2 linked regions of the Homo sapiens genome follow. The protein of the gene in region 1 interacts with the protein of each later gene in a pairwise test. Each region holds a gene or a part of one and is shown in the gene's direction. Other genes may lie near its edges. The genes, in order: GALNT12 and HPX.

What was found.
Region 2: the proteins of GALNT12 (region 1) and HPX interact in binary tests that used the Homo sapiens proteins (3 or more experiments, as listed by UniProt).

The regions. Positions count from the first base shown.
Region 1 is NC_000009.12:98,829,904-98,845,719, forward strand, and holds part of GALNT12 (polypeptide N-acetylgalactosaminyltransferase 12), read left to right. Parts: intron 1-1,836; exon of another isoform or gene 1,837-1,845; coding exon of another isoform or gene 1,846-1,868; coding exon 1,869-2,054; intron 2,055-5,345; coding exon 5,346-5,463; intron 5,464-7,068; coding exon 7,069-7,245; intron 7,246-10,098; coding exon 10,099-10,230; intron 10,231-14,192; coding exon 14,193-14,306; intron 14,307-15,816. UniProt on the Homo sapiens protein: Catalyzes the initial reaction in O-linked oligosaccharide biosynthesis, the transfer of an N-acetyl-D-galactosamine residue to a serine or threonine residue on the protein receptor.
Region 2 is NC_000011.10:6,432,664-6,449,400, reverse strand, and holds the start of HPX (hemopexin precursor), read left to right. Parts: upstream 1-8,413; 5' UTR 8,414-8,437; coding exon 8,438-8,520; intron 8,521-8,670; coding exon 8,671-8,729; intron 8,730-8,862; coding exon 8,863-8,934; intron 8,935-9,114; coding exon 9,115-9,236; intron 9,237-10,891; coding exon 10,892-11,045; intron 11,046-11,748; coding exon 11,749-11,961; intron 11,962-12,223; coding exon 12,224-12,355; intron 12,356-16,737. Other genes in the region: TRIM3 (tripartite motif-containing protein 3), read left to right, coding at 1-95, 221-373. UniProt on the Homo sapiens protein: Binds heme and transports it to the liver for breakdown and iron recovery, after which the free hemopexin returns to the circulation.

The DNA.
Region 1 (15,816 bases):
TGGTTATTGTGAATAGTGCTGCAACAAACATGAGAGTGCAGATATATTTTCGATACACTGACTTCCTTTCTTTTGGATATGTACGTAGGAGTAGAATTGCAGGATCATATGGTAGCTCTATTTTTAGTTTTTTGAGGAACCTTCAAACTGTTCTCCATAGAGGTTGTACTAATTTACATTCCCACCAACGGTGTGTGAGGGTTCAACCTGGGGAGCTTTTTAAACACACCAATGCCTGGTCCCATTTGGATCTAACTCTTGGGGCTGGGGCCTCGGCTTCTGCATGTTTCAAAAGCTCCCCAGGGGACTTTGGTGTGCACGAGCATTGGGACACATCAGACTGTGGACTCTCCCTAAGGTGGCCCCAGACAGGAGTGGTAACCCTTTCCATCCAGGGGCTTTTGGAAATGTGGGAGGGTATTCTTGGTTGTCATGTCAACCAGGTAGGGCTCCTGGCATTTTGTGTATCAGGGAGGCCAAGTATCCTGCAGATCAGCCCTGTTCAGTGGAGAATGGTTCTGGCCCAGATGCCAATAGCATCCCTGTGGGTCCTGCACATTCTCCAGCCACGACTGGGAGTCCTATACTCCAATGCTGGTACAGCATTCCCCTAGTTTTCCCCTCCTTGTAAAAATTAGGCTTTCTGTGGTTCCAGCCAGCTTGATCACAAGCCATCAGTTCCTGGGGGAGCTGGCCTTTGCCAGGGGCCAGCTAGAACTTGCCCAGCAGGTCTGATGTTGGCCCTTTCAACCTTTTAAATAATGCCCTCAATTGCTTTAAATAAGCGGATGTTGGTGGATACCTAGTATGCAACTTCCTCAATTTGGGGAACTCACAGATCTAAGACCCTGTCTCACGCAACCTGTTCTGAACAGTGCAATTTCCCGATAGTTGTAATTCTTACCCCAGAGTGGTATTTCTAATATCCCCTCTGACTTTCTGGTGTCATTCTAAGGACACCGAAAGCTCAAGTCTGGTTGATCTCTGTTGCACTGTCCTGTGTGGCAGGACTCTTAGGATTTTTAGGTCTCAAATTCCAGACAACGTCCCCCAAAATGTACTCAAGGAAATCTAGTGTTCACACGTGGTCTAGTCTCAGTCCATCTTTCCTGGTGTAGTGGCAAATGCAAAGAAACACGGCCTGGAAGCATGCTGAGGGATGGCCAGATTTGTAATAATGTGGAGAGAACCGTTGAAGCCAACACACAGGCTGATACCTGCAAAAGGAAATTATAGCATTTTTCACTATATGTAATATTTCACAATAACAAACATTAAAATAAAAAAATAGCAATAGTTTCAGGTTCTCTGCCAGCTATCTTAAAAACATTTTCCCAGGAAGTCCTCACATTAACCCTCTGAATGGATATTATAATTCCAGTGTTACCACTGAGGCAATAGGCTCTGAAGTTAGGTGACTTGGCTAATGTCACACAACAAATAAATAGCAGGATTAGAATTTATATTCTAATTCCAAAGCTGACCCTTTGGTCTGGGTGCACCTTTGTTCTTAGGAGATAAGTATTTCTTGATGTTAAGGTGTTTCATTGTGATTAAACCTCTTGCACTTCTGAGAAATTGAAATCATAGAGCGTTTGGTCAGAATGTCCATGGATAGAATCAGAGCATATTAAAGTCATGGGACTTTTTGTTTTAAAGCCCTCCGTGGCCCCCAGATCTCCCCCATGGTGGTCACCTGCCAGGGCTCTGACACGGCTGCAGACACCTGGAATAAGAGAAGCAGGTCTTTCTCAGATGTTCCTCCCTCTTATTGGAAGGAAGACAAGAATTCACCCTTGAATTTCCCAATTGTCTTCCTGCTGCCCGTCTGCATAGGAGAGACGGATGGATGTCTTGGGTGCTTTCAGGATCCATGAAGAGGAGTCGGCAGTGGTGTGCCCGGTGATTGATGTGATCGACTGGAACACCTTCGAATACCTGGGGAACTCCGGGGAGCCCCAGATCGGCGGTTTCGACTGGAGGCTGGTGTTCACGTGGCACACAGTTCCTGAGAGGGAGAGGATACGGATGCAATCCCCCGTCGATGTCATCAGGTCAGGAGCTGACTTCTGGGTGACTTGTTTTTTAAGCATGCCTCATTGAATCTGGCTGACCTGTGAGCGGAGGCCCTCGGGAGGAATGGTTAGCTGTCAGCTTAACTACCTCCCCTCTTCCCACTTTTTTGCCCAGAGTATTTGTTTATTTTTATTAAACGTGTCTGCTACACATGTCAATTTTATATCGGTATATTTTATTTATTTAATTTTTAAATTGTGGTAAAATATACATCATAGAGAATTTACCATTTTAACCATTTTGAAGTATGCAATTTTAGGCTGAGCATGGTGGCTCATGCCTATAATCCCAGTACTTTGGGAAGCCAAGGTGGGAGGATTGCTTGAGTCCAGGAGTTTGAGACCAGCCTGGGCAACATAGCAAGAACCTATCTCTACAAAAAAATAAAAATTAGCTGAGCATGCTAGTGTGTATCTGTAGGCCTAGCTAGCTGGAAGGCTGAGATAGGAGGATCGCTTGAGTCAAGGAGTTCAAGGCTTTAGTGAGCTATGATCACGCAATTGTACTGCAGCCGGGCGATAGAGTGACACCCTGTCTCTATAAAAAAATAAATAAATAAAACAAAGCATGCAATTTTAGTGGCATCGAGCACATTCACGGTATTGTGCAAACATGATCTTTACCTATTTCCAGGAATTTTTCATCATCCCACACAGAAAATATCCCCACTAAGCAATAACTTCCCATTCTCCCCTTCCCAGCCCCTGGGAACCTCTGTTCTTTCAGGCGCCCCATGTGAGTGGAATCATACAATATTTGTCCTTTTGTACTTGGCTTCTTTGACTTATCATCATGTTTTCAAGTTTCCTAGAGAACATCATTCCTTGTGATGGCTGAGTAATATTCCTTTGTACATATATGCTACATTTTGTTTATCCATTCTTCTGTTGGTGGACACTTGGGTTGTCCTTTGGTTATTGTTAAATAATGCTGCTATGAACATCGGTGTACTTTTATCTGCTTGAGTCCCTGTTTTCCATTCTTTTGGGTATACACCTAGGAGTGGGATTGCTGGTCATATGCTCATTCTTGAGGAAACATCTTTAGGCCCCTTTGACCTGGGGTGTGGGTGGATCCATGGCAGGTGGAGGAGTCTGCTCTGGCCAGTGGGTGAGTCAAGCTCTGAGTAGAATGGGCCCAAGGGAGGCTCAGCAGCTCTCATTCTGGAGGTTTTGAAGTGATAGCCTGGCTTCTTCCTCCCCTTCCAAGTTCAGAAGCAAGTGGGAGACAGATGTGGGAGTTGGGCAGGAGGAGGTCAGGACTTCAGCCTCACCGCTGGTGTGTTGAACCGGAAGTAGGCTCTGAGTTTTGCGTCCACATTTGGCAGTTGGGCTTCTGAATTCTTTCACCAGAGTCCTGACCTTAAGATGACCCGCTGCTGGCAGGAGTGGAGCAAGCAAGGAGAGTGTCCAGAGATAAGGCTGGAGAGATGGGCGGGGCCAAGGGAAGGGGTTTGGACTTGACCCTGAGCAGGTAGAAGCCACTGAAGGGATCGGAGCAGGAAGTGACCTGAGCATGTGCTGCGTGCCATGTGGTGAGGGCCCTGGGGGGACCGTTGTAGGCAGGGATACCATTAGGAGGCTCTGCAGTCTTCCAGGTCAGAAACAATGGTTCAGGAGATGGTGGGCACTGTGGATTCCAGAGATGTTAAGATGGAAGAATTGGAAGAAATTGAGTGGGAATTGGGGAAGGAAGGAATTAAGAATGGCACCCAGGCTTCTGTAGGAGCCCTTAGTGAGAACATCCTGCTCAATCCCTCACTGAATAGGTTTGGAAACTGAGACACAGAGCAGGAGGCTCTAATCTAGGCTACTTAGGCAGCCTGTCATGAATTCATGGGGGTCCATGAATTCTAATTGCCCCGTTACCCCACATGCTCAGGGCACCTATCCTCCCCATCCCATAATATCCCTGTGCCTCAGTTATCTCATCTGTATAATAGGTACCAGCATATCCACCCTGCTTATTTCCTAGATTTTTAGGATAAACACACGTGAAGGTGCTTTGTAGTCTAGAACCTTCCCTTCCACTGGGGATGTTGCTGTTGTCTTCTCAGTTGGCCCCATGCTTGGAGTCCAGGGCAGGCCCCGATGCTGCAGGATGTTAACATTTTCAGTGGTTGCGCTCTCAATGTTCTCTTTCCCTATTTTTTTTTTCAAGTTGGGGTCTCGCTTTGTCACCCAGGCTGGAGTGCAGTGGCATGATCTCAGCTCTCTGCAACCTCTGCCTCCTGGATTCAAGTGATTCTCCTGCCTCAGCCTCCTGAGTAGCTGGGATTATAGCTGTGGGCCACCACACCCAGCTAATTTTTGCATTTTTTTAGTAGAGACAGGTTTTCGCCATATTAACCAGGCTGGTCTTGAACTCCTGACCTCAGGAGATCTGCCCGCCTCAGCCTCCCAAAGTGCTGGGATTACAGGTATGAGCCACCGTGCCCAGCCCTTTCCCTATTTCTGAATTCATCCTTTTGCCTGTGCAACTCTGGGACGTGCTGACCTTACAGTGTTCTGCCGTGTAGGCTGGAAGCCGTGGGCCGTTTCTGGTTAGTGCTGGCTTCCAGATAAACCTGGTGGTGGGTGGCGGGAAACAAGGCTGGCTGAAAAAGCAGCCTGAGGCTGGCTAGCTGGGTCCTAGTGGAGGAAACCACTCAAGAGGACCTGGCCCTCGGGGCACTTTCAGATGCCAGAGTTGCCTTTAGGGCCTTCTGCATACTGGCCTCTGAGTGGCATCTGTGAGTGCCTGCCTTGTGAGATCACACCTCCTCAGATGACCATGGCCTGGAGCCTGCCTTCTTCTCGGAACGTGGTCTCTTGCTTCTCTCTTCTCCTTGCTCTCTATGCTTCTAAATGTCCCTGGATTTCTCCCACCCTTAAGCCTTTGCTCATGCTGGAGAACCATTCCATTTCCCTTCTTCTTCTTGGCTAACTGTCCTTTGTCCTGCAGACCTTGCTTCCTCCAGGGAACCTAGTCCTGCCCTTTTGCCCCTGCCCTCCTCAGTGTTCTCCCAGGGCCCTGGCTGACCTTAGTTAACATATTTAGCACACACATAGTACTTACCTGCTGAGAAGCCTGGGAGCCACCTCAAGGCAGGGACCGTAGGGTACATCTATGCCTCCAGGCCCAGCCTAGTGTGGGGCACAGAGGTGAAGGCGGGATATGCTTAGAGATGACAGATGAACAGATGAAAGGGCTCGTGGTGGGAAGGTAGTTGGATAACTGTGATGGTTTTCTGCTGTCTACAGTGAAATAAGGATATCATACTTTTTTAGGTCTCCAACAATGGCTGGTGGGCTGTTTGCTGTGAGTAAGAAATATTTTGAATATCTGGGGTCTTATGATACAGGAATGGAAGTTTGGGGAGGAGAAAACCTCGAATTTTCCTTTAGGGTAAGTATTTCAGTCTTCTCTTTGGACATGTTCTTAACTGATTCTCTCTTTGGGAACGATGGGATTTGCTGTAAGAGCCTGGTGGACCCTGAAAGATGATGACACGCATATCCTATAAACATGCTTGCTTTCTTGTTTTAGCTTTTTAAAAAGTGTACTTTTTCTAGATTTGGGGCCAGCAAGGGCCTTGCGAGTCACATAGTTCTCTCTCACTCTATGGAGAGGAGGAAATGAAACCAGGAGAGAGGTGACTTGCTCAGGGTTAGGTTCCTCCTGATCCTGTCTTCTGGAGCCTTTACTTGATTAATTCCTTATGAAGTGGCCTCTTTATTTAGCACAGTGCCTTTCAAACTTTGACAGATGTAAGAATTTCTTTTTTTTTTTTTTGAGACGGAGTCTCGCTCTGTCGCCCAGGCTGGAGCGCAGTGGCACGATCTCAGCTCACTGCAACCTCCGCCTCCTGTGTTGAAGTGATTCTTCTGCCTCAGCCTCCCGAGTAGCTGGGATTATGGGCATGTGCCATCATGCCCGGCTAATTTTTGTATTTTTAGTATAGACGAGGTTTCACCATGTCATCCAGGCTGATCTCAAACTCCTGACCTCAGGTGATCCACCCGCCTTGGCCTCCCAAAGTGCTGGGATTATAGGTGTGAGCCACTGCACCCAGCCAACACATGTAAGAATTGCTGGGTAAACTTGTTAGAAAGACAGATTCACAAGCACAATCTAGAATTCTAGCTAGATTTGATAGCTTTAGGGTGGGACCAAGATTCTGCTTTTTGTAACAAGCCTTCCTACTGATGCTACTCTACATGGCCCGTGAAAACCGTATTGGAAAACTCCTAGCATTTCAGTAGATTTTCCAGTTAATGAAGTCTTACATTTTAAGCATCAAAACTTTGTGTAAATGTTGGTGCTTTTCAGTGGAAAATTAAGATTTTTAATAATATTTTATATGGTGTTCTGCCCTCATAAAAACTGAATAAACAAGAATTTGGCCTTCTACCGAGGACTCACGCCCTCTGTAATAAGTACCAGATGCTGTGCTTGGTTGTCCCATCTTTGGGAAAATGAGATATTCAAGGCTGTCAGTCCCAGTGTGAGATGGGCTCAGATGCCTTCGCCTGTTGAGTCTTTGGGTGTGCTTTTAATGGTCTCTCTGCCTCTTCCTTAGGTGTCAGGCTGCTCTACCTGTTTCTAGACGCTCTTCCTTTCCCCCTTCCAAACCTCTTTTCTTCCTTGCTGCTTTCCTATCTTCTGTGGCTAGGAGATCAGGTAATCAAGCCTGTGTTTTCTGTAATGAGTAAGTGGGTTGCCAGCGAGGTCTCTGTGGATGCTCCTGTGAGTCAAGTGCATGAGCTTTAGTGCATGGACTTTGGGGTCTTGGTTCCCACAGCTTATATGTTTTGGGGGCTGCTTTCTTGCTCTTTACCCACATTCTGTGTCATGAGTGTGCCGGGTAGGTGGCCTCCTGCCCGATGGAGGCTGAGCATCTTGGCAGTGTCCATCATGCCTTGCGTGTGCCTGGCCTCTTTGCTGCAGATACTATGGACCCGCAGCTCATCCCCTGCTCACCACCTGGCCTCTCCTTTTCTCTGTGTGCAGATCTGGCAGTGTGGTGGGGTTCTGGAAACACACCCATGTTCCCATGTTGGCCATGTTTTCCCCAAGCAAGCTCCCTACTCCCGCAACAAGGCTCTGGCCAACAGTGTTCGTGCAGCTGAAGTATGGATGGATGAATTTAAAGAGCTCTACTACCATCGCAACCCCCGTGCCCGCTTGGTGAGTTCCTCGGCCCACCTGCACTCCATCTGGCTTCATCTGAACAACAGCAGCTAATCGTGGCTTCCCCAACATAGTCGATCTGGTTCCAGAAATAGAGAATAAATTGGGTGCTCAGATACGAGTAAGGGGAGAATTTATTCCTCCATTTATAATAATTATATGCAGTCAAATCTTCTTATTTACAGCTGTTATAGTGCATAAAGCCACCACAAATGCTGAATTCATGAAAACAGAGCCATTGTTCTTAGGGGAAATACAGGGTTAGGTTCCTGCCAGACTTGGGGCACAGTTTTGTCAGCAGATCAATACAGAACCTTGTTTTCTATGTGTTTCTGTTCAAAGACACCTGTTTAACATATATCGTTGCATCATTAACATTGCACTCATGGCTAACAGCACGGTAACTCATGCCAGAATGAAGCTTACCTAGCACGTGTTATTTTCTCTTCATCACAACCTTCTTGCATTTAGGAACACTAGGTAGCACTTCAGCACTACGACTGGGGGACATTCTAGAATAGCTGGTGCAGTCACCAATACAAAGCAGGAAAAAATGTGGTGCCCAACAGATGGTGAAAAGAACACTGGTTTACAGGATGAGAGCTGAAACAAGAAGGCGGTGTGTGCCCTTGTTATATATCACCTGGAAATGGGAGTTAAGTGTTGGGCAACTCAAATTTTTTGTCCATGAATGTGTGTGAAAATTAGAAAACACCACAAGTATTGATTTGGAGGTTACAAATCAATTTTATTATAGCATGTAGGGAAATTCAGATACAGAACCAGTAAATAATGAGGATGGACTGTACCAACATAGATAGTTGGGGATACCTGGTGTCACAGGCCAGGCATTGTCCATGTGTTTTGGTTTTCCTCTTTGTAGCCAGTAGGGTGAGTCCACAAACACAGGGTACAAGTTAAGGCACAGTTCTTTACCTTAAAGCTATTGCTCAGGGACACATCCGCCTTATTAGTTAGGGGTCTGTTACCTCCCTCTAGAGCCTTCTTGTTAGCACCCTGGAAGCTTCCTTTTCTAAAACAGGGAGTCTGTTCTGCTTCCATTTCCAGATGGAAGGACTACTGGAGAGTGGCCCAGGCCCCCGCTGCTACTCTTTCTCACCATATGTCATGGTCATGGAAACCCCCCCACCGCCAGCCTAACAGATGTCTATCTTCCTCCCCACTCAGAGGCCTTGCTGGGCCCATCTCTCTGACCAATGGTGAAGGTGTGCCTGCAGTCACTGAAGTCTCAGCTCAGTTGGCTTGCTCCCCTGGGTCTCAGCCACACACTACAGGGACACTGGCCCATCCACCCACTGCACTGAGTCTGTCGGAGGCTGAGGTTCAGCCCAGACTGTGTCCTTCCTCATAGCGATTTATCTCAGGGACTTGTTTTCTGGTCCGGATCCTTGCTCTGCCTCTACCTCCGGGACCATTGTGGATGAGGGATCTGCCTCTTCTTTCCCAGGTCTTGGGCTTCAGATGAAACACAGTCCACTGCCTCTGCCCCAGCCAGCTCTGCATGCTCCATGGCAGGGTGCCTGCTTGCCCTGCATTTGCATAACTAGTAGGGCTGCTTGGCAATACAAGAAGGTCTTGCTCTAAGGCTTCTCATCAGGCCACTTCATGGAAGTCTCTTCTGAGTCCTTCCAGCAACCCTGCAGGGTAGCAATAAAATTCTCATTTTATAGATGAGAAAACTGAAGCTCAGAGAGACGCTGTTGGAAGGAACTTGTCCAGGCCCTGTGGCTGATAGGAGGTAGAACTGGGCTTGGGGCCTGTACTCTGCAGCGCACCTCTTGCTCTGCTCTGCAGAGCCCATGGGTTCTCAGCTGGACTCCCACTCAGCCCCTCTCTGGCTCTGGGCTCCATGGTCATTTGCTTCTGCCTCCTCCGTCTTGCCCAGCACCATAGAGTAGAAACACCCACTCTTTCCTCATGCACAGTCTGGAACCCATAGTTCCCTTTTCCTGAGGGTTCCCAGAGAATATTTTAGGGGGGCACTGAATGCACCCTTAGGCTTCATGTCCAAGGCCAAGTGCTAAATGGATACTTGGCTGAAGCTGGGGGCGCAGTGACTTTCACCAGTGAAAGAACTCTGGGAAATAGCAGAAATCTGAAATCTTATTCAAACATGTACTTATTATTACCATTTTGTTCAATATTTAACTTGTCAGCTTTTAATTGTTTAACATGACAGTGCAGGTACGGTAATATTTCTGCACTCAGCATTTTTCTTGTGGCTGCACATTTGCGATACTAAATAGAGGCTTGCTGTATTTAATTATTCAAAAGCTCTCAGTCATTAGTTTTGCCCATAAAACCAAACTTGCATAAGTATTTCTTTTTGCTTATTTCATACTGAGAACATGATTACATCTAGAATATTTACCTGTGTTTGAAAGTGGATATTCAGATATTAGTAGTAAACCAGAAAGTCATGGCATATGTTTCGGTGAAACTGACATTTCCCTGGTTGGGTTTCAGGATGACTTCTGATCACAAGCATGGGTCACAGGTCCGGGATCCATAGATGCCAGTGCAGCCCCAGGGCTTGGCTCCTTCACTCCATCAGCAGGCGGGTTGTCCTCTACCCTTGTGCACCTGGTCACACCCCCCTGCCAACAGAGCACCTAGGAATGGAATTGTCTGTGTGACAGCCTCTCATACTAGAAGCTAGAATTAGGTGCAAGGATGTTTTCTATCCTCTGTGCTCCACACAGGGCCTGGCATGCGACGAATGCTCCATCAAAGCTGGCTGGTGGTTAGTAAGTGAGCATCAGTGAACACAGGGGCTTTGAAAGGAAGCACTAGGACCCATGGGGTCTCACTGTTTTGTTGTTTTCTCAGGAACCTTTTGGGGATGTGACAGAGAGGAAGCAGCTCCGGGACAAGCTCCAGTGTAAAGACTTCAAGTGGTTCTTGGAGACTGTGTATCCAGAACTGCATGTGCCTGAGGACAGGCCTGGCTTCTTCGGGATGGTGAGTGAGGGTGGTGGGCCCACGGCAGGCAGGGACTTCCCTGGCCTCTGGGTCTGCTCTGCAAATCCTGGGCAAGAAAGGCCACGTCATGGGGAGCACTGGCTTCCTCCACTCCCACCCGCCTGCCCACCCCCCACCACCTTTTTATCCACTGCCCTTCTTTCTCCCTGTGAGCGTCTGGGCCGTAGGTGCAGAATGTCAGAGCTGGAAGCCATCTCAAAATTGACAACTATTTTGTAGGTAAGGAAACTGAGGCTTATCTGGTGTTTCCATGTCCTAGTTTTTACCAACGCCTTATCATATTACTTCTAGTCTCAATGGCTGGACTAGTTAATAATTCCAAGTTTGGAAGTCTACAGAGGCAATAGTGGGTATAGGGGAGTCACTTCGAGTATTTCAAAAAACCTAAAAAATGTTTTTGGGATGAGACCAGATAAAATGTCCAGTGTCTTTTGTTTTTGCTGGGAATGACACCAGCTTAGCAAGGTCTCCTCTGCTGTGATGTGTTGATCAGAAGTGCTGGTGTTCCATTCTAGAAGTCTTTGATACATATAAAGCAGGATATTCATGTTACATTCTATTTTCATTATGAAAATATTCAAACATATAGAAATGCAGAGAGAATGGTATGAGAATGGTATAATGAATACCATCCCTGAGATTCTAGAATTTTCAAGATCCTGCCTCTCTTTATCTCTTTCTCTCTCCTGTACTTCACCTCCACATTTTCCTCTTTTTAAGCAAATCCCGGGCATTGTGTCATTTCTCTCCTCTGCATTTTATGCATTTTCATAACATTTGGACATTATCTTACAAAACCGTAGAAATGAACAAGTATTTCTTGGTATCATTTAATGTCTAGTTCTAATACATATTCCCCCAACTTTTCCAGTTTCTCTTTGAGTGGCTGGCTAATTCGAATTGGGATCCAAACAAGGTGCACACATTGCATGTGATGGTTGTGTCTTGTCTCCTAAATCTCTTTTAATCTAAGGCAGCCCTCTTCCTTTTTCTTGTTAATATCTTTAACTTGTTGAAAAAACAATATGTTACCTGTGGAGTGTCTCACTCTTGCAATTGCTATTTTTTTCTTTGTGGTGTCTTCAAGTTGTGCCTCTCTCCCCCATATTTCTTTAAGATAGAAGTGAGTTCTAAAGGTTTGATTAGAGTCAGGATCCACCTTTTTGGCAAGAACACTTTGTGGGTGATGTTATGTGTTCATGTTGTGTCATATCAGGAGCATAGGAAGTATGGTCATCTTTAGTGATAAGGTTGACCAGTGGGTTAATGGAGTATCCCTCACCTGGACCAGTCATTATAAGACCCCCATCAGCCTCTGTCTCATGTTTTTAGTAGCCACTGATAACCATTGCCTAGGCCCATTATTTCAAATGGAGTTGCCAAATGGTGATTTTTCTCTTTCATTTCTTCCACATTTATTAGCTGAAATTTTTCATAAAGAAGAACACTCCCTCATTAACTAAAGCAATTTGGTATATGTGAGTTTTAGAATTCATACAGAAAAGGCACGACAAATTCTTTTTTTTTTTTTTGAGAGAAAAGTCTTGCTCTTGTCCCCCAGGCTGGAGTGCAATGGCGCGCTCTCAGCTCACTGCAACCTCTGCCTCATGGGTTCAAGCAATTCTCCTGCCTCAGCCTCCCGAGTAGCTGGGATTATAGGCACCTGCCACCATGCCTGGCTAATTTTTTTTTTTTGTATTTTTAGCAGAGACGGGGTTTCACTATGTTGGCCAGGCTGGTCTTGAACTACTGACCTCAGGTGATCTGCCTGCCTCAGCCTCCCAAACTATTGGGATTACAGGCATGAGCCACCATGCCCGGCCAAGGCATAACAAATTCTTAAGTCTTTTCTTTATTTGCTTATTTTCAGAGTAAGAGTTGGTATTTTAGTTTCCTCCAGTTGTATCTACTGGGTTGTTTTTTTTTTTGTTGTGGCTCATTGTTTTTTTTGGCTTTTTCTCTTCTTGAGTGTCATTGTAAACTAATGGGTGTTTAAATAGCCGGTGTGCTTCAATCAATTCATCTTTTCTTCTTTGTATTGTTTTTTGAGACAGGCTTCTATTCTGTCACCCAGGCTGGAGCACAGTGGCACCATTGTAGCTCACTGTAGCCTGGATCACTGGGCTCAAGTGATCCTCCCACCTCAGCTTCTTAAGTAGCTGGGACTACAGGTGAGCACCACCACACCTGGCTAATTTTTTATTTTTATTTTTAGTAAAGACTAAGGTCTCGCTATGTTGCCCAGGCTGGTCTTGAACTCCTGAGCTCAAGCATTTCTCCTGCCAAGGCCTCCCAAAGTGCTGGGATTACAGGTATGAGCCACTGTGCCCAGCCCAATTCATCTTTTTAAAAAATATATGAAAATTGTTTTTGGCCAGTGGGAGTCCCTTTATTTTGGCTTCTGAGGTCTTTGACACCTTACAGTGGCGTTGATAGCCTCCTTGATTCTGGCCAAGTTGTCCCATTCGAGTTTTAAACATTTCCTGCCATTCCTCCCAGAAGCCCTGCTCCTTTGTTGGGTAACGGTATTGGGAGTCAGTCTGGATGCTGGCGGTGCCCGTTGCTATGCGTTGTCATTGCCTCCAGACCATGCAGTTTAACAGAAATATAATGAGAGCCACCGTTGTAACTTAAATTTTTTTAGTAACCATATTAAAAAAAAAGTAAAGTTAATGAAATGTTTAACTCAGTATATCCCAAATAATATCATTTCAACATATAATTAATATAAGTATTTATTCATTGAGGCATTTTACATTCTTTTTTCATACTAAGCCTTGAAATCTGGTGTGAATTTTATACTTATAGCATATCTCAATTTGGATTAGTTACATTTCAAGTGTCCAGTAGCCACAGTGGCCAGTGGCCGCCACATGAAATAGCACAGCTCTAAATTTTTCTCATTGGGCAGAGAAAGGAAATTCGTATTTTTGAGAAACAGATCATGAGCTTATATTAATATCTGAAAATCCAATGTAGTCTTGAAAAATTTTCTTTGATAGCATACTCATATTTCTTTTTTCTTACCCTGAAAATCTTGGTTTTAAACAATATTAACATAATTACTTATTTTCTTTATCCTAAAATATATTGAAAATAGTTTCAAGATAATTAATACAGTACTACAGCTTAGAGTATTATACTGAATGAGGTTTATAATTTCTTTGCAGCTCAGTTTGTTTATAGAATATATTTCATAGGTGGTATTTTCAAACATACCATGCTCTAAAGTGATTTAAATTAATTCTTTTTTTTTTTTTGGTGGTGGGGAGGACAGAGTCTTGCCTTATTGCCCAGGCTGGAGTGCAGTGGCATGATCTCAGCTCACTGCAACCTCCGTCTTCTGGGTTCAAGTGATTCTCCCGCCTCAGTCTCCCAAGTAGCTGGTACTACAGGTGCACCCCACCACACCTGGCTAAGTTTTGTATTTTTAGTAGAGATGCGGTTTTGCCGTGTTGGCCAGGCTGGTCTAGAACTCCTGGCCTCAAGTGATCCACCTGCCTCCGTCTCCCAAAGTGCTGGGATCACAGGCATGAGCCACTGAACCCAGCCTAAAATAATTCTTTCTTTGTGTCTATCGCCTGCTTGATTTAGTTAGCTTAATTAATCTAGTTCGAGGTATCAACCCAGGTATATTTGGACTTGCACAGCAGTAAGGCTGCTACTAATGAGAAAGAAAGAGAGAGGAGCTTTCAGGCCATGAAGAGTTTATCTCTCTGGTCCTCAGGCTTATCAACTTAAAATAGGGGTAAGGATTCTTGCCTGCAGAACAAGGAAGCACTTTTAAAGCTAGAAGGTGCTGTACAGAAAAGACTCTTACCTTTGCGTCTAGCTCTTGAAGCAGGCTCTCCTCTCATGCCAGGTACCCTCCCCAAGCCTTGTGTGGCATCTGTTAGTGTCTATAAATCTGGACTGAAATGCCACATTTATGTTTTATTTAGCTCCAGAACAAAGGACTAACAGACTACTGCTTTGACTATAACCCTCCCGATGAAAACCAGATTGTGGGACACCAGGTCATTCTGTACCTCTGTCATGGGATGGGCCAGAATCAGGTAGGTATGAGCCTCAAAAGAGGAGAAAGCTGTGTGTTTTGTTAAAAAAATTAAATAGTTGAATTTTTTTCTTGTAAAAGTAATATTTGGGAAATATAAAAAGTAGAAGCCTAGGGTGGCCAGACTCAGAGAGACCACTGTTAAAATTAAAATGTGTTTTCTTCCCATCATTTTTTACACATAACACACAGAGATTATGTGTTGTAAATAGTTGTCATAATGTCTGTATGTTTTATATTCCATTATTTCCATTCCCTTCATCTACTTTTCTTATGTTATTAGATACCCCTTGAGAATATCATTCCTAGTGGCCACTTGATATTTCATTTTGTACCTGTATTACTGTTTCGTTAACTGGTTCCCTGCCTCCCTGTCTTTGCAATTATAAATAACCCTGCCTCTAACACCTTGGGTCAGACAGAAGGAAGGATAAAGTAACAGATCTGCATTTCAGATGATTTCCTTAGAATTAATTGTTAAGTGGAATGACAGGTTTAATGCATAGGGCCACCTTGCAAGGTGGTGTTTAGGGACATTGCCTCAGCTGGGGGCCAGGTGTATCTGTCTGGGTGAAGGGCTGTAATTCAGGCTGGGCAGGGGAGATTCAGTCCTGGGGGAGTCTGAAGACCAGAAAAGGACCCCCAGCCCTGGAAAGCAGTTGACAGGACCCTTGGAGGATGCAGGAATGGAGAGAAGTGTTGGTTCTGGGCCTCTGAAGCTTCACCGTACCAAGGAGTTATCAGACACCAGGAAACAAAGGGATAGAGATTCAGATGTTGTTTTTTCCAATCTGGATTCACCCCAATGCCACTTGAATATGAGGCCTTCTTATGGTCAAGAGTAAACTTTCTTAATTCCAACCCCTGCAACCTTAAATTATTTAGGTTTTCAACACTGTTTAGAACAGCCTTCCTCAAAGCTGATGGTACCTGAGTGCTACCATCAGCATCATCTGGGAGCTTGGAAATGCACATTTTCAGACTGATCCCAACACTACCGAATCCCAGACTCTTGTTTTAAGCAGCTTTTCAGGAGATAATGGTGTGACAAGCCCTGCTCTGTGCGCCTTAAGAACACCCACCTGTGTCAGAATTTTTGAAAGGGGCTGGTGGGGTGGGTGGGTGTCTTGTCAAAGATGCAGAAAATGCAGCTTCCTAGGCCCCACCTCACACATAAGGAATCCTTATTCCGTCTCTGGGATGGGGCCAGCAATCAGCATTTTTAACAGTCACTGTAGGTAGTTCCTAGTACACTCAGGTAGGAAAACCATTGTCCGGGAAGAACCAAGTCTTCCCGTTAGCGGTCACATTGTCTGCTTGTGCACAGCACTTTACATCTTCTAGGAACTGTCATATTGGGGGTTTGGGAGGAGAGACTGAGGAAAAGGAGAGGAAGTAGCTAGTCAAGGTCACAGAGAGCCCCCAAGAGCTAGTGCTGCGATGGGTCCATTTCCCTTCCTCCCATCCCACACCAACACAGCATTCAGCACTGCAGGCAGGAGGTGACATGC
Region 2 (16,737 bases), on another chromosome or scaffold:
GCGAGGGCAATGGGCAGTTCAATGCCCCCACAGGAGTAGCTGTGGACTCCAATGGAAACATCATTGTGGCTGACTGGGGCAACAGCCGCATCCAGGTGAGTAAGGCCTGGGAATGACATGAGGGGGCGGTTTCCTGGTGTGTCCCATATGCCCGTTCCCCCAAAACAGACTCTCATCTGCCTGATCTTGCCTCTCCCTCCTTTCTGCACTCCTTCCCCAGGTATTCGACAGCTCTGGCTCCTTCCTGTCCTATATCAACACATCTGCAGAACCACTGTATGGTCCACAGGGCCTGGCACTGACCTCGGATGGCCATGTGGTGGTGGCTGATGCTGGCAACCACTGCTTTAAAGCCTATCGCTACCTCCAGTAGCTGTACAGAGGCCCTGCCTGGCTTGTGGAGGGACAGACATTGGGGTGATTGGACAAGAGGGTCTGGCTGGGAGGTGGGCCAGACCTGGCAGCACTGAATGTGGGCTGTGGGCATGGGTGCACCCGGTGCCCTCCCTCTCCTACCCCCACCCCCACGGTTGCACTTTATTTATTCGGTTCTTGCTTTGGTGACTGGGTGAGCCTGGACTGTGGTCCCAAGGATGTGTGCAGAGCTTCACCCTACCCTTCTTACACACCTCCCCACCCCTGTCAGTCTGCTCCCCATCCCCCAGCCTGGGGCCAGAACAGCCTACCCCAGGACAGGAGTCCCTCTAGTTGTCTCCCTACCACCCTATACACACTGACAGAGACAGCAATACCCCACCCCCCATATTAAATAAATGTCTTCACCAAGATGTTTTTGCTGGGTTCTTGTGGGGTGGGGCTGCAGTGAGGAGATGGGATGGTGGGACTAGCTCTGGACTAAAAGGTGGGCAAGCAGGCAGGCAAGGGACCCAGCTTCCCAAGCAGGTCCTGATATTTTGAAACTTCCGTAGAGAAGAGCAAGAAAGGGTGAACCCATGGGACCCTGACCCACCTGCCATATCCCCATCCCCAGGCCCTACAGAAGTAGGCAAGTCCTTTGCCTATCTGCCCTGGGGCTGGGAAGGATTGTGGGGTTGGGGGGGTGAGGGAATGACCTCTGCCCAGCACACAGCCAGTAGGTGCAGAGAGAACAGTGTCAGGCTATGAAAGCAATCTTTGAAGTTCAAGCCTGGGCAAGGGAATTGAGGCTAGCCCAGGTGGTAGCTACGTGTGGGAGACTCCATGGCTAATTTTAAAAGTCATCCCTGAATCCCTGGAGCCCTGACATATCCCCTTTCTCACATTTCCAAGACTGCTGCCCCTCCCTGCAGTGGAATTAGGGTCTTCACATTCTCTCCTGAGCTCTAGACTGCCAGAGTTTTACTGCTATCTCCAGAGAGAATTGAAAGCAGCATTCAGTGATGATTTGGCAAGTAGGGACTATGATTTCTCTCTCTCTCTACAAAAGACTGAAGCTCACAGAAATAGGTCATATTGTTGATGAAGAGCAGAGCCCAGATTTGAATATGTAGCTGTCATACTCCTAACCGGTGAGTTATAGCACCCCGTTCACCCTTATGCCCCTTGCACCTGGCATGATGGCTGGCAGAGAAAGCACTCAACAAGATTTGGGGAACGTTGGATCTGGGAAAGTTGATCATGAGAGGTCATGGAAAAGATCAAGACATCGATCTGGTATAGCACAATTCTGGGGCTAGGAAAAGAGGGACTATCCATGGATCTGTGGAAGACCATGGGGGCTTTGTAGAGAACAAGGGGGTCCCACTTGGACTATATGGAAAGTCTTGGTTATGCTTACCTCCCTGGTCCTCTCTGCCCCACTAGCTGAAACCTGACAGATAGGCCAGGCACAGTGGCTCACGCCTGTAATCCCAGCACTTTGGGAGGCCGAGGTGGGTGGATCACCTGAGGTCAGGAGTTTGCGACCAGCCTGGCCAACATGGTGAAACCCTGTCTCTACTAAAAATACAAGTATTAGCCAGGCATCGTGGTGGGTGCCTATAATCCCAGCTACTTGAGAGGCTGAGGCGGGAGAATTGCTTGAACCTGGGAGGCACAGGTTGCAGTGAGCCGAGACTGTGCCACTGCACTCCAGCCTGGGCAACAAGAGCAAAACTCCATCTCAAAAAAAAAAAAAAAAAAAAGAAACCTGATAGATAGGTGGAGGGACCGATGAGCTCCCTGAAGATTTTAGTGCAGGTGCTCTTATGGAGCCTGCCCCTCTGGCTCTGATTGTGAGTGGAATTGCCTAAGCCCATGCCCTGGTCAGCCGAGATGGTGTGCTCAATTATCAGTCGCTCAGCACCAGTGGAGTCCTCCCCGAGAACTCTCAGGTGATGGTCTATTTTTCTGCACCCCTATCTTGAGCAAGGCACCAGAAGTAATACAGAATGGAAACTCAAAGCTTCCAGCCCTCAACCTGTCACATGTTTACATTGTGAACACCTAAAAGTAGCAGGGGAATAAAAAGGCAGTAAGGGTGACCTTCCTTGGGCGGGATGCTGCAAATGGCTCTTCTGCTAGCCCAAGAACAGGCTGCTAGGGCTGATTTCCATAGATTCAGATTAGGTAGTCTTCCCATGCCATGGAAAAGGTACATCAAGGTGGAGTCATTCTGTTCCTTCTAAATCCAGCCGTGGTGGGCATTTTCTTTCCAATTCAGGCCTTGGGGCCAAGTAGATGAAAGTAGTGCCTGACAGTGGAGGCCAAGTCTGGAATGATTGTCACAGATTTGGGGGTCACAGCAAAGCCCCTGCTGTCAGAATGTTATTTTGTGGTCCTGCAAGGGTTCACACTTTGCTCATATAGGGCTGTCTGGTGACCAGAACAGCCCTATGGCCATTTGTGGTCTGCGGGTTCATTTATTTATTGAACAAGTATTTGTTGAGCACTTAATATTAGACAGAGTAATGGGCCCTGGGAATACAGAGAAATGGTCCCTGCCCTTATTAAGCTTATAGTCTAGTGGAGAAGGGAGACAAGTAAGCAACAAGGAACTAAATGTGTAATAACAATTTGAGTTCAAGCTGTGAAGGAAATGAACAGAATACAATGATAGACAATATAGTGTTAAATAGAGTGGACAAGGAAAGTCTCTTTAAGCAGTGACCTGTAGGGTTGGAGCAGGGTGGGTAGGGAACTAGCTGTGTTAAGAAAAGGAGATAGAGATTTTCAGACAAAGGAAAAACAGGTACAAACATCCTGAGGGGTTGAGATCTTGATGTGTTTGAGAATCTGAAAGGAGGCCAGGGTGACTGGAGAGGAAGGAGGGTGGAAGGAGAGAGGAAAGGAACAAGTTTGGAGAATTAGGCCTGACTTCGATCATTTAACTAAGATAAAGAGCTTGGATTTGGTCTGGAGTATGACAGTAAGCCACTGAAAAGTTTAAGTGATAAGGATGAAAGGGATGCCCTGTGAAACAAACTTTAAACTGGGCAGTGATTCTGTGGGGTAGGAAGAGAATTGAGAAAGAAAATCAGAAAACAATTCAACTTCTCTAAACTGTTCCTCTTGAAGACTGTGTATACATTAGAATTACAACTGACTTCGGCCAGGTGCAGTGGCTCCCGCCTGTAATCCCAGCATTTGGGAGGCCAAGGTGGACAGATCACAAGGTCAGGAGATTAAGACCATCCTGGCTAACACGGTGAAACCCTGTTTCTACTAAAAATGCAAAAAATGAGCCAGGTGTGGTGGCAGGCGCCTGTAGTCCCAGCTAATCGAGAGGCTGAGGCAGGAGAATCACTTGAACCCAGGAGACGGAGGTTGCAGTGAGCCGAGATCGCGCCACTGCACTCCAGCCTGGGTGACAGAGTGAGACTCTGTCTCAAAAAAAAAAGAAAAAAAAAAAAAATTACAACTGACTTCAAGAAAAAATTTTAAGCAGGAGCATAAGGTGATCTCAGATACGTTTTTAAAGATCACTGTGGTTGTTATAAAGAATGTGTTGTAGAGGAGCTATTTCAATGGTCACACAAGAAAAGGTGGTGTTTGCATTACTAAAGAGGCAGAGAGAAATGGACAGATTTTATGTATAATTAGGAAGTAGGAATAATAGGATTCAATATTTATTAAATACATACAGTATTTCAGGCGTGTTCTCAGTGCTGAAGATATAGCAGTGACTAAAGCAGGTAGGATCCTTGTCCTGTACACAAAGGCAGCATGGTAGACTGTGGGGTGCTGGAGCTGGCTCATGAGAGCTGATTGTCAAATTTAGAATTTTGAGAGCTGGTTGTTAAAACACAGCTATTATTAAAAATCAAACTATATAAACTTAAATACATTCTATTAAAACCAAAGATAATCAGTACTTAAAAGTAATCACTTCCTAATTATTTTACTACATTTTACTATCCCCTGTGCTCTTGTGATTATTTATATCTATCATATCTGTATGGTAGGAATATTGTATGCAGTGTGTTACTGTACATCCCTTCCCAACTCTACATTTGGTGATGTCTTGTCGGTAGCTTAAAGTTGGCCATGGTAGGAGTATTTATATCACAAAAATCTGCAAATGTTACAAATCAGTGCTTTTTCCCCCTAGAGAGCAGTTGTTAAATATTTGCCAGCGAACCCCTTGATAAGAACACACTATCCTTGTAGGAACACACCCCTAGGAGTCAGGCACCCAGGGTTTAAATCATGGCTCTGCCACTTGCTAGCAATGTGATTTGGCTAAGATACCTAATATTGGCTTCCTCATTCATAAAACGGGACTCATAGTGCTACCTTTGTCTGTTTGTGCTGCTATAACAAAATGCCCATGACTGATGATTTATAATGAACAAAAATGTATTTCTCACAGTTCTGGAGGCTGGGAAGTCCAAGATTAAGGTGCCCAGCAGGTTTGGTGTGTGGTGAGGTCCTGGTCTCTGCTTCTATGATGGCATTTTGAACGCTGCATCCTCTAGAGGAGACAAATGCTGTTCATCACGTGGCAGAAAAGCAGAGGAGAGAGAATCCACTTCTGAAAGCCCTTTTTATAGCAGCATTAATCCATTCATCGGGCAGAGCTCTCATGACCTAAACACCTCTCATGAGGCCGCACCTCCAAACACTGGCACATTGGGAATTAAGCTTCCAACACATCAATTCGGAGGGGACAGAAACATTCAAACCATAGCAAGTGCTATATACATGCTATATATATATATATATAGCACTAAGGCCCATTATAGACTGAGCAAGAGGAGGGGTCAGCTGGGATCAGCAAGCTCTTTGGCTGCCTGGAGCTTTATCCCTAAGCCTCCTACCCCTGAGGAAAGGAGACATTCAGTTCCTGCTCCCTGGAGTATACAGCCACAGACTTCAGGCCCAGCACACCTAGCACTCAGTGGGCCCAGGAGAAATGGCTAAGGTCAGAGAACTCATATCAACAGCAGAGCAGGCTGGACATAGACATAGCCATTCCAAGGGACAGTGGGTCAGTGTCCAGCTTACATCTGGCTCTTGGCAATGCAGGAGGAAGCTCTGTCATTTGCAGACATTTGCAGGTTCGTGTTCAGACCCCTTCTGGGAGAAGTAAAAAAGCTGCTGGTTAGGAGGATAGAGAAGACTACCCAGGAAAAGAGATGGTTGAATTTCTCTGGGCTCGAGTTCCCAGAGAAGCAAGAGATTGAGGTCCCCAAATCCACTCTGGGCAGCAAGGTTTGCAGAAGAAGGGAAAGAAGCATAGAAGGGTGTGTACCACTAAGGATGCACAGCCAGGGCTGAGAGGAGTGTGGGACAAAGGCTGTGGAGAGCTAGTTTCAGAGAGGAAAAACTCCTGGGCTCTGGCCTCTAGTTGAAGGGCGGGAGTGCACTGATTCCTGCGGCCTGCAGGGGGTGCTCAGGCCCAAGTACCGACAAGCTTCTTTCCTCAGCCCCAGTAGGAAGCCTGGGAAGGACCCAGGACCCACAGAAGGGGCCTCCTGTAGTGAGGGGAAGAGAAGCAAGGCTGCTGAGTCTTGACTACCCTGAGAAGTCTTGGCTTGTACCCTGTGACCAACACCAGGGTGGCCAACATATCCACAGCCCTGGGTTCCCAAATGTGTACAATGTTCTACTTTCAACTCCTGCCCAAAACTTGAACTTCAACCTGGACTGCCTGCAGTGCAGATGACTCTGCTGGCCTAGTCCCTGGGTGGAGCAGGAGGATCCAGTAATGGTTTCTAAGCCATTCTCGGGTACACAGGTGAATTAGGAAGCAACAGGGAAAAGGGACCATAAAGTAGTATTCTGGGATAGATGGATCCGGGGTGCTGTGAGGGGGACCACACCAGGTGTGTGGGGAAGGGGTCAAGCTGAAAAATGATCATCCAGTATATGTGCTGTATGCCCTCAGACAGCCCTGTTAGGCCAGAAGGAGACTGCACCCTTGGACTGGCAAGTCAGTGCAAGGCCCTGCTAATAGGACTATTGAAGACTCTCACTATGGGTTTTCTGTGGGGTGTTTGTTTCTTGGGGTGAAAGCTTCCCTCTCCCCAGGCAGGCCCAGCAAAATCTGTAGGATTCAGACAGGGTTCTGACAGCTGAAGACAAGTTGTTGAGGAAATTCCTGATGGAGGATCATGGGGTGCTCAGGAGGGAGAATATAAGGTTTCAGAGGCTGAGAGGGAAAGAAAAGGTGAGGGGGAGTCTTAGAATAGTGGCTCCCATTGCCCAACACCCAGAAAGAAGACATGCCCTGCAATGGGGAGAAGGTGAGTATGAGACATTGGCTGTAGCAGCGATGGCATTGCCCAGGCTGCCAAGGACTCAGAGAGTCCAGCCTTGCCCACTGACCTATGAGGAGGGAATGATGTTCACAGCACATTTTCATTCGTAAGTCAGGAGAGGACATTGAGCCTGATGGCAGAGGCCTGGTGACATGTTGTTCCAGAGGTTCCGGAATGTGTGTTTTCCTGTTGGAAGGAAACTTCGCAGAGTAGAAAAGGGATCTGAGACTTTTGGTAAGATTATATATGGGACTGTCAGGGGTCTGGAGCCATCTGTGAGGGATCAGGGCCCTTTCAGCCTTGGCTAGGGAGCAGGGGTCCTGGAACTTCATCCTGGCCCATAGCTGAGTCTGCCCATAATTCTTTTCTGACTCACTAGGCAAATCTCACACAGAAATGGGGCAGCTTTGGGAGTGGGCCCAGGAAGTACTGAGGATAGCAGGTGAGATCCCAGGAAGAGATGGATGTGGGGCCGAGACACTGGAGAGAGAAACAGGACTGTCAGATAAAGGGCGTCTGTGACTCCTAGATCTCATTATGCCTACTACCATAACCTACCCCCAATTCCTAATATTCTCCTACCCTAGAGGGGGGGAAATTGTCAGAAATTTGGCTGCAACACTAGCAACACTACTCAGTACTTGAAATGCATTTTTGCATTTTTTTCATTCAACAAATATTTCTGGAACAACTCTTATATGCCAGGCACTATTTTAGGAGTCAGGGATATATAATGGTAAACAAGACAGGCAAAACAAAGCAAAGCAACAACAACCATCACCAGATAAGTAGACAGATGAAAGAATTTCAAGTTTTAGTAAGTAAAATAAAACAAGCAAGGGTCTGAAATGGCTAGATAAGGTGGTCAAGAAAGGCTTCATTGAGAAGGTAGCATTTAAGCAGGAGTCAGCTAGAAATATTGTGAAATTCCAGTTACAGTTCTATTTGTTCTGGGTTGGTTAAATAAAGCTTTTTCCCCCAAGGTGGAAACTACCAAGAAAGACTAATTACTAGTAGTGGTGGTGCTCTCTGGAAGAGAGACACCTCCTGTTTCTGCCTCATTACTGTCAACCCTTCACTTCCAGGCACTTTTTGCAAAGCCCTTTGCCAGTCAGGGAAGGCGAGAGGCTGGGCATGGGGCTTGGACATTTGACAACAGTGAGACATTATTGTCCCCAGACTCACTAGCCCAAGGGTAAAGCTGAAGAGGCTTGGGCATGCCCCAGAAAGGCCCCTGATGAAGCTTGGAAAAAGCTGTTCTCTGAGTATTTCTAAGTAAGTTTATCTGTGTGTGTGGTTACTAAAAGTAGTAAGTATTGCTGTCTCTAGCTGCCTTAGAGCAGGGCTTGACACAGTACACAGCAATATTAGTTCCCTCCTTTTCTCACCTCCCCCATTGTGGAGATAAACTCAATCACAAAAGGTGATCCTCAGTCTACTCACTTCCCTGACTTATGGATGCCTGGACCCATTGCCAGTGTGAGAGTCACAGCTGGACGTCAGCAGTGTAGCCCAGTTACTGCTTGAAAATTGCTGAAGGGGGTTGGGGGGCAGCTGCCGGGAAAAAGGAGTCTTGGATTCAGATTTCTGTCCAGACCCTGACCTTATTTGCAGTGATGTAATCAGCCAATATTGGCTTAGTCCTGGGAGACAGCACATTCCCAGTAGAGTTGGAGGTGGGGGTGGTGCTGCTGCCAACTCTATATAGGGAGTTCAACTGGTCACCCAGAGCTGTCCTGTGGCCTCTGCAGCTCAGCATGGCTAGGGTACTGGGAGCACCCGTTGCACTGGGGTTGTGGAGCCTATGCTGGTCTCTGGCCATTGCCACCCCTCTTCCTCCGTGAGTAAAGCTGGGACTAGAAGCGAAGGATTGAGTTCTGGGCTAGGGTAAGGTAGGGCCAGTTTTTAGGCCTCGGTCAAATTTGGGGTCAGGGGCTATGGGAAAGGGATCGGTCCCAATGGATCAAGATATCTATTTTGTTCTCCCTAGGACTAGTGCCCATGGGAATGTTGCTGAAGGCGAGACCAAGCCAGACCCAGACGTGACTGGTGAGGCCCTGACTCCCTAAGTCTGTCTTATCTGTCTGGTTGTGTCTCTGCATTTTATCACCTTCTGGTTTTTTTTTTTTTTTTTTTTTTTTTTTTTTTTTTTTACTTTGCCATCTCCCTACCTCCACCCCAGAACGCTGCTCAGATGGCTGGAGCTTTGATGCTACCACCCTGGATGACAATGGAACCATGCTGTTTTTTAAAGGTAGGAGGGACTGAGGTTAGGGCGTTTAGGACCTTAGACTTACTCTCCTTCACAAAGGGTGTCCCTGTCTGTGGGAGGTCTTAGGAATTATCTGATGGTATCACTGACAGCTTCTCTCAAGCTATCTCAGTAGGTCAAAGGTTTCTCACTGGGCCCCTCAGTGAGTGTGGGTTTTTTCAGGGGAGTTTGTGTGGAAGAGTCACAAATGGGACCGGGAGTTAATCTCAGAGAGATGGAAGAATTTCCCCAGCCCTGTGGATGCTGCATTCCGTCAAGGTCACAACAGTGTCTTTCTGATCAAGGTACTGCTGGGCCAAAATCAGGGCCAGGCTGGAAAGGGCTGGAATCGACACTGGGGACCCTTCCCCCAAATGGCCTTGGCATGGAGCCCATAGCAATAGGTAGCAGATTTCTTTCCCATGTGCCCTCCTTTCCTGTAAAAGCTTGGGCTAAGGGAGTGTGCATGCGTGTGGGCCTGGCAGGTGCACCATCCAGTGGCTGTTCTTCAGTCCTAGTCTTAGTTCTACACCGCTCTGCTGTACCTCACACTGCTGGCCATCCTTTTTTTCTCTGGCAATTGCTTCCCTTGCCTTCCATGACCCTGTATCAAGTCCTCTTCATAGGGCAAGGCAAGTTGTTCCCAACACAATGGCACCTGGCTAGAAGAGCATGTGGAGCATGAAATCCAGTCTGCTGTGCTCACCAAGTCCCATGTGACCCAGGCTGTGTCTGCTCAGAGGAAGGGGTGCCTTTTCCTACCTTGCCAAAGGTGCTGTGTGGTTGGGGAAGTCCTGACTGTCGGCTTTGTTTTCCCTCCTGCCTCTTTTCTCTCTCTTCTCAAATGTCTCATTCTATCTCAACCAGTTCCCTAATGTTCCTTGGGGATCCATCCTAGCCTTTCCATATACCTTCCCTCAGTGATCTCAACCATCACCTTGGCTCTGAGGAATATCTATGCTGTGGACACTGGATCTAGATCTACTTTCTGAGCTCCAGACATCTCTTTCCAATTGTATGTTCTACAGGCACCTAAAATTCAGCATCCCCCAAACTAAGCTTTGCATCTTCTTTACAAACCAACCTTTCCTCCTGTGTTTCCTGTTTCAGTAAATGACCCCAAAATGTGCCTGATTACTACAAACCAAGTGCACACAGGGTCTCATGATCTGGGCCTTGGTTATCTTCTCAGGTTTATCTCCTCCCCTGCCACATTCACTGTGTGCCAGCCATACGAATCTACATGAGGTTGGAGCACACTGCTTCCTCATGTTTGGGCTCTGCATGCTGCTCCCTCTGCTGGTAACACCCTTTCCTCACTTGTCAACCTGGAAAATTCCTGCTGATTTTTCAGCTCTTGGGCCCAATGCTTCCTCTTTGGTGTGAAACCTTCCACAACTTCTCTAGGCAGACTTAGGCACTCTGTCTATATTCTCAGTGCACTCTTTACACTACACCTTGGTAGTTGCATGGCTAGGATTGCAGGAGTCCTTTCTGCTTTTGTACAGTGAACTTCCTGAAGTGAAAGACAGAGTCTTGTTATCCTCAGTGCCTCTCACAATGCCTGGCATATAGTAGTTATTCAGTGACTGTTTCTTGGATGAATGAATGAATGAATAAATAAATGAAGAAATGAATGAAGAAATAACGTATGGGTGATTGCAGGATGAACAGTTGTGGATATGTTTGTCAACACTGATAGTGTTGCAGATAAATGTGCCACAGGAGTGTCTGGGTACAGAGCTAGAGGCATGTGTGTTATAGTAATAGTGACTGGATTTGCACAAACTGAGAGTGTGTAATGTGCAAAAGGACAGCACATTGTTGTCCACAGATGGACTGAGAATGTGTAGGGCCACAGGAGGATATCGTATAAGCACAGTAGATAAAAAATGTGTGTAAATGCAGAGTGGCAGTATCTGGGGATGCACAGTCAAAAAGAGAGTACTTTTGAATGCAGGGGGACAAAGTCTGGGTATACCCTCCTGAAAAGAAGGAGAAAGGATACCCAAAGTTGCTCCAAGATGAATTTCCTGGAATCCCATCCCCACTGGATGCAGCTGTGGAATGTCACCGTGGAGAATGTCAAGCTGAAGGCGTCCTCTTCTTCCAAGGTCAGTCCAGGCTGGAATCCAAGAACCTGGAGTAGTGGTGGGTTGGTAGTGATGCCAGTAGTGATGGTGATAGTGGTAGTGATGGTGGTGGTGGAGCCACTATGTGGCTTTTTAAGGAAGGGAAATAGAGAAGCCACGTATGGTCTAGAGGTCACGTGAGGGAAGGAGAGGAAGTCATTCTGGTGAAGGCAACTGTGTGTAATTCTGTGTGAATAGTCCCTCATTGTTCCCCATGACCCTTAGGACAAATCTACCCTCTTTAGTCTTACATACAAGTCTCTCCATGGCCAAATCCCTATTGGCCCTTCAGCTTTGACTTTTATTATACTTTTACCTTAACACTAAGCTCCAGAAACCCTATGCTATTCTCTGTACACTCAGTTTGCTCCATGCTTTGGAATCTTTCCTCTCTCTGGGGTTCCATCTCTCCTTGTGTGCCTTTTAATTCCTACTTCAGATTTCACTTTAAGTATCATCTTCCCTGGGAAGTTTTCCCAGACTCTCCCCACTGCCTTTGCTGAGCTGATCCTGTGTGTTTTGCTGCTGAATTTTGGTGTATGATCACCCTCCTTTAGCCATCTCTCTGATGGCTGTGAGCTCCATGTGGTCAGTACCATTATCTGGCCCATCCTGGGACCCAGAGAAAGCACAAAGGAGGGCGTAACCCGGTCTCACCAAATGCCTGTTGATTGATTGGACAAAGGTGACCGCGAGTGGTTCTGGGACTTGGCTACGGGAACCATGAAGGAGCGTTCCTGGCCAGCTGTTGGGAACTGCTCCTCTGCCCTGAGATGGCTGGGCCGCTACTACTGCTTCCAGGGTAACCAATTCCTGCGCTTCGACCCTGTCAGGGGAGAGGTGCCTCCCAGGTACCCGCGGGATGTCCGAGACTACTTCATGCCCTGCCCTGGCAGAGGTGAGAAAGCCCTAGCACTTGAGACCTGTCAGAATTCATCCACTTTCCCTGAGCTTGTGGATCTCACGTGTCCTAGCTCTCACTTTAACTCCGTGTTGCGACACCTTGGCCCTTAATCTAGCCCCATTTCCATTCTGGATTTTCCCATTGCCCTCATATGGGGAAACCCACACCCCACTAACCCCAGCCATCTCTTCCACCTTGGACCTCACTCTGACCTCTGGCCTCCTTCTGTGTTCTCCTCACCCATTTCTCTCTCCAGGCCATGGACACAGGAATGGGACTGGCCATGGGAACAGTACCCACCATGGCCCTGAGTATATGCGCTGTAGCCCACATCTAGTCTTGTCTGCACTGACGTCTGACAACCATGGTGCCACCTATGCCTTCAGTGGTGAGAGATGCCCCCAACTCCCCCAATGTGCTCTCACATCTCTTTTACTTGTATCTCCCATCCTTGACACATTTCTCCATTGTCATCACTGTGTCACTTATTTTGTCCCCTCTGTCCCCATCCTTCTGCATGCCCTTCTGCATCCCTCATCTCTGAGGCATATTTCTCAATCTTGTCTGTCACGGCCCAAGCCCCTAACTTCATCTACCTGTCTACCATCTACTCCCATGGCTGTGCCCCCTGTGGACCTCTCTGGGCCCCTATGACTCCTTGTGTTCTCCTTGCTCAATGCCCTGCTGAGCCCTCTGGCTCTCCCTTGCTCCCTGGACCTCTATGTGTCTCTGTACCTCCTTGCCTCCCTTTGTTCTTGCATATCTTTCTGAGTCCTCTGGCTCCCCCTGATTTATCCTCAGAACTCCATCTTGTTTCAGGTTCCTGGTTCCTATGTCCAGACCCCTGGGCATAGCACTGCCTGGGGATGAGATGTTCTCATTGCTGAGAACCAGCTGAGAAGTGTTGGGTACTTTAGACCTTTAGAGGCTGGCTTCACTAGCCTCTGGAGGTTTCTCCTCTGAGTAGCCAATGGAGATACCCCTCCCTTGACCCGTGGCATCAATTGGTAAAAGCCATCTAATAATACCTAGGGCTGTTCTGAGTTCAGTCAGGCAGTAAATAGTCATGCTGCACAGTTGAGAATATCCCCAAGAGGAGTGAGCAACCACATCACATCCAACCTGAGATATATGTATAATTAGGACAGTGGTAAGAATATAAAATCGTGAAAATATTTTTTTCACACAAAATTTTTTTGGCTCCTGACCCTTGGACAAATTTGACCAGTTATGACTATCAAGTTCTGTTGAAAAATACATCACCACATGGAGAGCAAATCTCCACAGCAGGATTGCACACTATAATAAGAACATACAGCTAAGATGAAACACACACCTGTAGTGAAAATACAACATTAAACTGAGAACATACGCCATAGTAAGAACACATAAGTATCAAGAGAACACACAGCCATGGTGGGAGCCCATTGGGAGGACACACAGACAAAGTGAAATGCAGAAAGAGAGAGAGAGTGAGTGAGAGATTGTGAAAACAGGGCCACAGGAAACACACAGAAATAGAGAGAGACACCAAGCCATCTAGAGATCACAGAACTTCAAGGCCATGTGGCCATAATGAGAATGCTACTGAACTCCTAAATGAAAAATGTCATGTATGTTCCATAGCTGTTGAGAGAGCCCACAGCATGGAGAGAACACCTTATATTAAAAATACCCAGGCCGGGCGTGGTGAGTCACGCCTGTAATCCTAGCACTTTGGGAGGCTGAGGCAGGTGGATTGCTTGAGCGGCTTGAGCCTAGGAGTTTGAGACCAGCCTGGGCAACATGGCAAAACCTCATCTCTACAAAAAATATAAAAATTAGTCGGGTGTGGTAGTGCGTTCCTATAGTCCCATCTACTTCAGAGGCTGAGCCCGGAAGGTCGAGGCTTCAGTGAGCCGTGATCGTGCTACTGCACTCCAGCCTGGGTGACAGAGTGAGACCATGTCTCAAAAAAAACAAAAACAAAAAACAAAACAAAACAAACAAACAAACAAAAAACCCATATATATATATATATACCTAGCTGAGGTGAGAATGCACTATTTTGGTAAAATCACCAACATGACCCAGCTACAGCATGGGGCAGTCCCTCCCCTCTCACTGGTAAATTTTTCTTTCTCTGACTCACAGTTTTGTTGTTGTTGTTGCTGTTGTTTGAGATGGAGTCTCACTCTGTCACCCAGGCTGGAGTGCAATGGCGCAATCTTGGTTCACTGCAACCTCTGCCTCCTGGGTTCAAGCGATCCTCCTGCCTCAGCCTCCCGTATAGCTGGGACTACAGGCGCATACCACCATGCCTGGCTAATTTTTGTATTTTTTTTTGGGTTACAATGTACTATTTATTAATTTAATTTTTGTATTTTTAGTAGAGATAGGGTTTCACCATGTTGGCCAGGCTGGTCTCGAACTCCTGACCTCAGGTGATCCGCCTGCCTCGGCCTCCCAAAGTGCTAGGATTACAGGCATGAGCAACCACGCCTGGCCCCTCATAGGTTTTTATCTATTCTCTTTGCTTCTTCACAACTTTGGCTTGCACGTGGACCATCATGTTCTCTCCACTTTCTCACTACTTCATGATCTTTCAGTCTCAGTTCCAACTGATACCTCCCTCAGTTGCTCTTTTTTCCTAGTAAGATTTCCAGAGAGGGAATCTGAATGGCCCAGTCCATATTTTCAGACCACACCACATTAAAGTGGTTGATTGCCAGCCTATGTATTGGCTACATTAATGGGTTGGGAACTCATCATTTACTTCATTGCACAAAGCAGCATAGCTCTGGTTCTCAAAATAGGGCCCCTGGGCCAGGTGTGGTGGCTCATGCCTATAATCCCAACACTGTGGGAGGCCGAGGGGGGCAGATCACTTGAGTCCAGGAGTTCTAGACCAGCCTGGGCAACATGGTGAAATCTCATCTCTACTAAAAATACAAAAAATTAGCCAGGTGTGGTGGCATGCACCAGTAGTCCCAGCTGTTCAGGAGGCTGAGGTGGGAGGATTGCTCGAGTGTGGGAGGCAGAGATTGCAGTGAACCGTGACTGTGCCTCTGCAATCCAGCCTGGGTGACAGATTGAGACCCTGTCTCAAAAAACAAATAAATAAAATAAAATAAATATGGTTCCTGAGCAGGGTAATTTCAGTGGGAAACCTCCCAGGGGAGGTGGATATGTCAGTCACCGCTGTATACTCAGTACACGGCTAATAAGAGAACTTGTGGTAGCAGCAAGAACACTAGGTATTTACTCAACAAATATTTGTTGAGCATCTGATAAGAAGTGGGCATTGTCCTAGGCACTGAGATACAGTAGTCAACATGGCAGACAAGATGCCTGCCCTGACAGGCTCTGCTAAAGTGAGAGAGGACAATAAGAAAGAGAAAGGAAGAAAGAGAATAATTTTAGGTAATATTAAGGGTTGTAAAGAAAATAAGACAGGATAGTGGGATAGAGGTGAGGAGAATGAGGGCTGTCTTCTGAAGAAATGATTTTTGAGCTGAGACTTCAGTGATGAGAAGGAATTAACCACACGATGTGCTGGAGGAAAAGCATTTTAGGGAGGGTGAGCAGCACATACTTCAAGGAATCAAGAAGGAAGCCTGGTGAGGCTGGAACACAGAGAAAGAGCAGGTGGGTGACTTGAAAGGGCAGGGACGGCAGTGGCCAGGTTACCTAGACCTGGTAAGGGTTTTCAACCATAAAAGGGAGTCATCAGAAAGTCTTGAGCAGGGCTGTGATATATTCTAACTCATTTTTTATAAAAGATCACTCTGACTTTTTGCAGAACATAAGTTATAAAAGTACAAGCATGTAAGCAAGGAATCCAGCTAGCAATCCGTGCAGTTGTCCAAATTAGAGGTGATGACCGCTTGGACTAGGATGATAGCAGCAGAGGTGGTGAGGAATCACCATGATATATTTTGGAGGTAGAGCTGACAGCATTAACTAATAGCTAAGATAGGCCGGGTGTGGTGGCTTACGCCTGTAATCCTAGCACTTTGGGAGGCCAAGGCGAGTGGATCACCTGAGGTCAGGAGTTCGAGACCAGCTTGACCAACATGGTGAAACCTCGTCTCTACTAAAAATACAAAATTAGCTGGGAATGGTGGCACATGCCTGTAATCTCAGCCTACTTGGGAGGCTGAGGCAGGAGAATCGCTTGAACCTGGGAGGTGAATGTTGCAGTGAGCCGAGATTGCACCATTGCACTCCAGCCTGGGGAACAAGAGTGAAACTCCGTCTCTAAATAAATGAATGAATGAATGATATCAGTCAGAGTAGGGAAGGGAAAAGAGGCTTCAAGAATGACTCAGCTTTCGTGGACTCAGCAACTGAGTGGCTGGTGGTTTTGTTTTCTAAAATTGGGAAAGACTAGGGAGTGTGTGTGTTGGTGGGGGGCAGAAATCAGTTTGGGCATATTAGGTTTTGGGTGCCTATTGGCACCCCATAAGCATGTCAGGTAGGCAGCTGATTTGGAGCCTAAACCTCAAAGGAGAGGTCAGTCAGAGCTGACGAGAACAGATTGGAAGTCATCAGCATATAGATGGCATTTAAAGCCCCTGGACTAGGTGAGATTACCAAGGAAGTGAAGGTAGAGAGAGAAGAGAAGAGGCCCAAAGTAGGGGATTCCAATATTTAGATATCAGGTTGAAGAAAAGAGTAGTCAAAAAAGATAAGAGGAATACTGGGAGAGTCAGGTGTCACAGAAGCCAAGTTCCAAAAAAAGACATTTAAAGGAGAAGGAAGTAGTGAGCAGTCCAGTGCTCCTGAGAG